Linked DNA regions of Homo sapiens. The protein of the gene in region 1 purifies or fractionates together with the protein of each later gene. This does not show direct contact. Each region holds a gene or a part of one and is shown on either strand. Other genes may lie near its edges.

Region 1 (3,196 bases):
AACCTCAGTGATCAATACTGACAGCACAACCACAGAGACCTGGTAATGCAGCATGGGGGCCCTGAGACCTGGCAGAGGTATGGAATGGCACAACAGTCAGGCTACAGAGGCAGTGTGGCATCTGGGACGGGGTGAGAAGGCTGCTACTCACCTCGTTCTACTTCACATTCAGGGGAGGAGGCCCCGCTGCATTCACTTCGAGGGCCCAACACTGGGAACATCATCCCAAACTCTGACAGGGACACAGGGCTGGGCAGATCCAGGCTGCCAGGCCTCACAACCGCAGGGAACTGGTCAGGCATCTCAGACGGGCTTGTTGGTCCTGAACTAAAGCTGGACACGGACTGGGTTTCCGAGTCATCTTCAGACACAAAGTTGCTACAGCTGTCATCTTCAAAGGCCTCCGAGGCCACTAAGTTGAGAGAGAACACCAGTCACATGGGTTCTGTCACCTCCTCAAACACCACAAGTGCTTGCTGCTGGCAGGCAGCTAGACACAGCATGGGGGACTAAAGAGTCTCTACCTCTGTGAGTGCCTAATGAAGGAATGTGACTTCCCAAGCCTGAATGACCAGCCTCTAAAGCAGCTGGAAGGGAAGCAGCTGGCAGCAGGATCCCATGGATATTAAGCGCCCTTCCAATAACCTTATAACCCTGCCAAGAAATCAGTGTCACCAGACACCACCTAAAAATGGAAGATTAATTCAGCCACAAATTAGGACCTTTACTCCACCTCAGTCCCCCAAATACATCCTCATGTGCACAGGAAGAGGTTCTAGTCCTCTGTAACATATCCCAAACAAAGCCAGCTGGACTCAGGCTTCTTTCTTAGGGCAATAGAAGCAAGAGCTGCTAGAAGAAACAGGCCAGCATGGAACATCTGTTGGGACCTTTGTTATCTCCAGGTAACTTCTGATCTCATAAAGAACACACTCAAAGGCTACCCACATCACCATTTGCTGCAAAAGAACAGAAATCCTTTACAATGCTCTGTAGCCACATTATTTGGTAGACCAAAGTAACAAGGCCCAGACACATGTTATTCCCATGGTTTCAAAGCCTCTTTGGCCTTTAGCGGTTTTCCCTCAGCCTGCCCACAATCCCACTCCTTATTAGAACTTTCCTACTCCATTTTTCCCCCCCTTTCTCTTTAAAAACAGCCTTGTAGCATTCCATAAAGGTTTCTTATAAATGATAAATACTGTAATGTTGGGGACAGAAAATGGGCTCAGACCTGAATTGAATCCCTAACTCCACTACTTGCTGTGTGACCTTGGTCAAGTTACTTTACCTCTGTAAGCTTCATGATCCTCTCCATGCAGGGTTTGAGATGATGTATATATTAAAGTACCTCATACATAGTAGTTGTTCAAATGATAGTTTCCTTTTCCTTTACCTTGAACCTAGTACTTAAATATTTGTTGAAGGAATTAACTCCTGAGGAAGGAGCTTGGGAAAGAGCCGACAGGGATTATTGCACAGGTAAGGAAAAGAAAGGAAGTATGCAAAGACAGCGTTGGGTGGGTTTTCTTGATGAGCATGACAGAAACCAAGTCAAACTTCTATCAGTTTTCCAGGGGGAGGCCCTGGGAAAAGAGGTCTCTATGGTCAGATGTCAGTAAGAGCCACCATTTGCTGAGTGCTTCTTGGGTGTCAGGGGTTGATTCATGTAAGCTGAACCACCACCCTACACAACGGATAGTATACAGTAGATAGCGTCATACTCCCCATTTTACAGGTGAAGAAACTGAAATACAAAGTTAGGCCCTTGCCCACATCATGCCTTAGTAATGATGTAAAGGTAGCTTTGAATCAAATCTGATTACAGCTCTTCTTTCCTGCAGGACTTCTCAGCCTTGAATGTTCAAATGTATACTTTGACTCTCAAAGAGGAGTGAAGGTGTAACATTTTCCCAATTTATTTGACCACAGAATCCTGACTTTGAGGAACACTTAGTACCTTCTTAATGAACACAGTGTTCCATAAAACATGGGAACCCACCAGAAATAGCCCTCAGGCCTGCCCAACTCTGAGACCTTTCACTGATGGCCAGAGAAAGTGAGGACCTTGGGAAACAAATCACACAGTCTGATATCTCCCCACATACCCAGTGGAGCCCCTGACTTACCAGAAATGGCATCAGGCTCAGGTTTGCTCCCTGGCAGATCCTCCACAGATGTGCTGCTGCCCTCAGCACCAACACCGCATCCCCGAGGCCCCATGGCACTGGAGCGCCGCCGCTCGTGGATCTCATCTGAGATCATCTCCAGGTTCTTCAGGGCCATCTTGTACTCGCCTTTTGCCAGGGTCAGTTTGGCCTGCAGGTCATCCACAGTCTTTTTCAGTTGCTGATCAAGAGAACAGGAGACTAAGTGAAGACTACCCTGCTAGCCTTAAGATGCTTTCTGAATGACAGGTTCAAGTACATTTTCTGCCCATCATTCTACTTCAAGGAATTTTCCAAGACATGACTGAAGACCTAATTACCATTGTAACTGCTATTCATTCACCAGACAAAATCAGCCACCACCATCCCCAGATCCCATCCAGGTGACAACCTCTAATATCCAAAAACTCTCACTGGTGGAACAAACCCCATCAGGGAAGCAAAAATGGGCATCAGACACACCAAAGTCCCACAGTCTAGACATCTGGTTCCCAGTACAGTGGTTCTCAAAGTTGAGCTTGCATCAAAATCCCCTTGGGTGTTAAGACTCAGCTCACTAGACTCCAACCTCAGAGTTTCTAATTCAGTCGGTCTAGAGTGGGACCTGGTCTATCAGGTCTCCAGGTGATGCTGATGCTGCTGGTCCTAAGAGCATGCTGTGAGAACCACTGGCCTAGTACAACAGAGAAGGTGACTGAATGGCAGTTACAGAGGTTCAGAGACCACTGAAGACCCAACCGAGACAATTTTGAGGTCTGAAAACTCAGTAAAGCCTGTCTCTCCACTTTCCCCTTATAGCAAGTGGCCCATGTGATACTCTGCTACCCCAGAAAAGTGAAGCTTTGAGTGCAGAAAAATCTCATCAGTGACGAAGCCCAAAGCTACACATACCTCGAGCTGCACATAGTACTTTGCCTTGAGTTCAAAATAAGGCCTGCAGAAGACAGGAAGGAAAGCCATCAGAGTAATATAATACAGTGACCACAGTCAACTCCACAAGATGAACAAGAGGCATCAGCTACCACTGG
Region 2 (2,929 bases), on another chromosome or scaffold:
CTATCTTTCAAAAGTAAATGTAATAAAAATGCACAACATAAAATGTTTATGATCCCAGCAATACACTTTTTAAAAAATGTGAAAGTCAAAGAATTAAGTTCTAGTTCTGACTCATCACAAGAGGTCAAAAGTATTTGCTACTGTAACATTCAATTCACATTTGAGAATCATGGTAAAAATAACTTGCATTTGCCTTACCATCATGATCCTACTGTTGAGTTAGGAAAATATGGTTAGACAGACTCACATTACTTTTTTTCAGAGGTAAACTCTAGATTACTGTGTCAACCCAATACTATTTGGCCATAGATGTAAAAACTACCAAATAAAAGTGGATTTTGTGGTCTACAACATTTTGTGTAAAGTGAATTCATGTCTGCTAACACCGTTAAGTCTGCCATTTAATCCAGAGTGTTAGACTACTAATGAATATGGTAAGGAAAATATAAAATATTAACGGTATATGCTATTTGAGGAATTTTAAGTCTCACAGGCTTTAGTTTTATTTCCATACATGTTTATTATATACACACTGCCTATAGATTCTGTTTAAATAATCTCTAAGAAAAAAATCAAACTTTTCTGAGCAGGTGATTAAGCTGAAAACAACCAATTAAAACCACCACTTTTTAAGTGACCTTTGGTCACAAATGTCAAAATGTTTCCACACCCTTTCCACCCTCAAACAAGAGACAAACTGTTTTTGATAAACTCTAGTATTTATTAAATTATAAATTTTGTAATCAAAAAGAAAAATGCAGACCAAAAAAACCTCAAACTATAAGACTAGACAGCAAAGCCTATGGGAACACCATGAAGTGTGTTACAAACATTCTGAAACATAAGTTACTGGCTGTTTTCATTTCCATTTCAATAACTTTACTATAAAATAGTTGTTATTCATCTATTTTGAAATCCCAAATTCACATCTATTCATACATTAAATTATGTTTCCTGTTCATAATATCAAACATCTCACAGGTGCCAAATTTTAGTAATGGTCTTATGCCAATCCATGCAGAAAAATAAGACACAATGCAGGAGTCAGATGAGGACCATTAATGCACAGATAATACAAACACACTGGCCAAAAGAACTACAGAAGTTTTTAAAAAGTATAAAGTAAACAGACCTCAAGAAAACTGGGTTATTACTAAACAGCTCTCAACTATTAACACCCAAGTTCCTTACATTAAATAAATTTCTCAACAGAGACATGTTAGACATTTTAATTATGAGTCTATCCTTCCCATACCCCTTCCCACCCCAACTCCCAAAATGCACTACTAGGGATGAGTATAATGTTATGTGGGCAGAAATTTACAGGTAACCCTTTCAACCTTGAGCATGGAGCTGAAGACATTTTTATTTAAACTTCAGTTACTGTGCACTGTCCATCAGGCCTTCTAGATCTGACACTGACACTCACTGTTCCACCCCCTGCTACTGATCGATCAGTTCCCGATCGATCTGATCGATCGGGTACTGTCTGGTTTGCATTAGAAACCAAAAGTCTCTGTTGGGTCAAGGAGTGCTGTGCAACAACTGCAGATACATCCTCACTATCACTACTGGCATCTGATTCAGTTTCTTCAATGGAGGTGTCTGGTGCTGGTACCCTGCCTGAAGATGGTGATTCATGATCTTCTTCTCCTTCTCCCCTATGACTCCTTTCAGCTGTGTTGTCTCCACTGAGTTGTAAATGAGCAAAAGAGTCTTCCAGAGAAGTGCTTGCATCAGGGGATGGTGTTGCAGGGCTTGTTAACTGACCATCTACTGATGTTAGGGGCCTTACAGAAGACACTAGGGGCTGAACAGAAGCTCCACTCTGTGCTGATACACTGTCCGCTCCGTCAGCAGAGCTCTCTCTTGCTAGGTTTACGGTATTAGCATCACAGTCTAGCCTAAGTCCAGCTACTCCCTTCTTTGGTATATCTATTATATCTCGCTTAATCTTCCTGCGACGTCCATGTTCATTTCTCCTATATTGAACCATGTTTTCAAGATCAGCGACATACAGAAAGCCAGCAATTAACATTTCAGTGTTCTTTTTACCTTTGGAAAAAGCATCTTCCAGCTCTCTACTAGTGCGCTCATCGTACTGCCACCACCCATTTCTTCCTTCATAATACCATGCATATTCACCATTTCCTCTACTTGCTGCCTTGAGTTCTTCTGGTGACAACAAGGTTGGCTTGTCAAGGAAATCCTCGGGAATTTCTTGTCGACAAAGAGCACACCGCTTTCCAAGCCATGAAGCTCCTTTTACACATAGATAGCAGAAAACGTGCTTACAGGGCAGACTGACTGGATGAACACATGTTTGCAGACAAATGGCACATTCAGGGACGGTTAAAGAAGGTGCAGTATTAGAACAGGACTCGTTCGCTTTCCTGTTTGTAGGAAGCATGTTTATTGAATGATCAATTTCACCACAGCCAGCCATCCTAAGAAAAAATACATATAATATTAAAGTCATGTTTTAATTCTTGCAATATCTTAATTTAACAATTATGAAAACACTAACCACCTATGATGTGCATTATATGCAAGCCACATACTAGACAATGGGGATATGAAGATGAAAGTAGAGGAAAAACTCTCCAACCGATGAAAATTTTTTGTAAGCATCTACTTGTACATACCTTGGGAATGTATAAAAATTCCATCAGTGCACTTAACAGATCAGCCCTGGAGAAACACACTGAAGAACTATATAATGAAAAGCTGCATCCAGTGAGGGGAAAAGGATACCTTGAATCATGGCAGCTATTATACAGTGAAATGAATGCTAGACAAGAAATCTAAAAATCTGAGTTTTAGAGTCCTTTATTAATTATGTGCTCTTAGGCACTCAGTTAAACCATTAGTCTAAATTTCCTTACCTGCAAATCAGAGTTTACAAAGCTCAGGTAAAAATGGACAAAAA

What was found.
Region 2: the proteins of SH3BP5 (region 1) and RNF146 purify together in Homo sapiens (affinity purification with western blotting, with the first as the bait; one study listed by BioGRID). This does not show direct contact.

Annotation. Positions count from the first base shown.
Region 1 is NC_000003.12:15,256,702-15,259,897, forward strand, and holds part of SH3BP5 (SH3 domain-binding protein 5), read right to left. Parts: exon of another isoform or gene 3,103-3,196; coding exon 3,060-3,102; exon of another isoform or gene 2,350-3,059; coding exon 2,130-2,349; exon of another isoform or gene 1,933-2,129; intron 906-1,932; exon of another isoform or gene 413-905; coding exon 152-412; exon of another isoform or gene 1-151. UniProt on the Homo sapiens protein: Functions as a guanine nucleotide exchange factor (GEF) with specificity for RAB11A and RAB25. Inhibits the auto- and transphosphorylation activity of BTK. Plays a negative regulatory role in BTK-related cytoplasmic signaling in B-cells.
Region 2 is NC_000006.12:127,286,134-127,289,062, reverse strand, and holds the end of RNF146 (E3 ubiquitin-protein ligase RNF146), read right to left. Parts: exon of another isoform or gene 2,886-2,929; intron 2,448-2,885; coding exon 1,370-2,447; 3' UTR 501-1,369; downstream 1-500. UniProt on the Homo sapiens protein: E3 ubiquitin-protein ligase that specifically binds poly-ADP-ribosylated (PARsylated) proteins and mediates their ubiquitination and subsequent degradation. May regulate many important biological processes, such as cell survival and DNA damage response.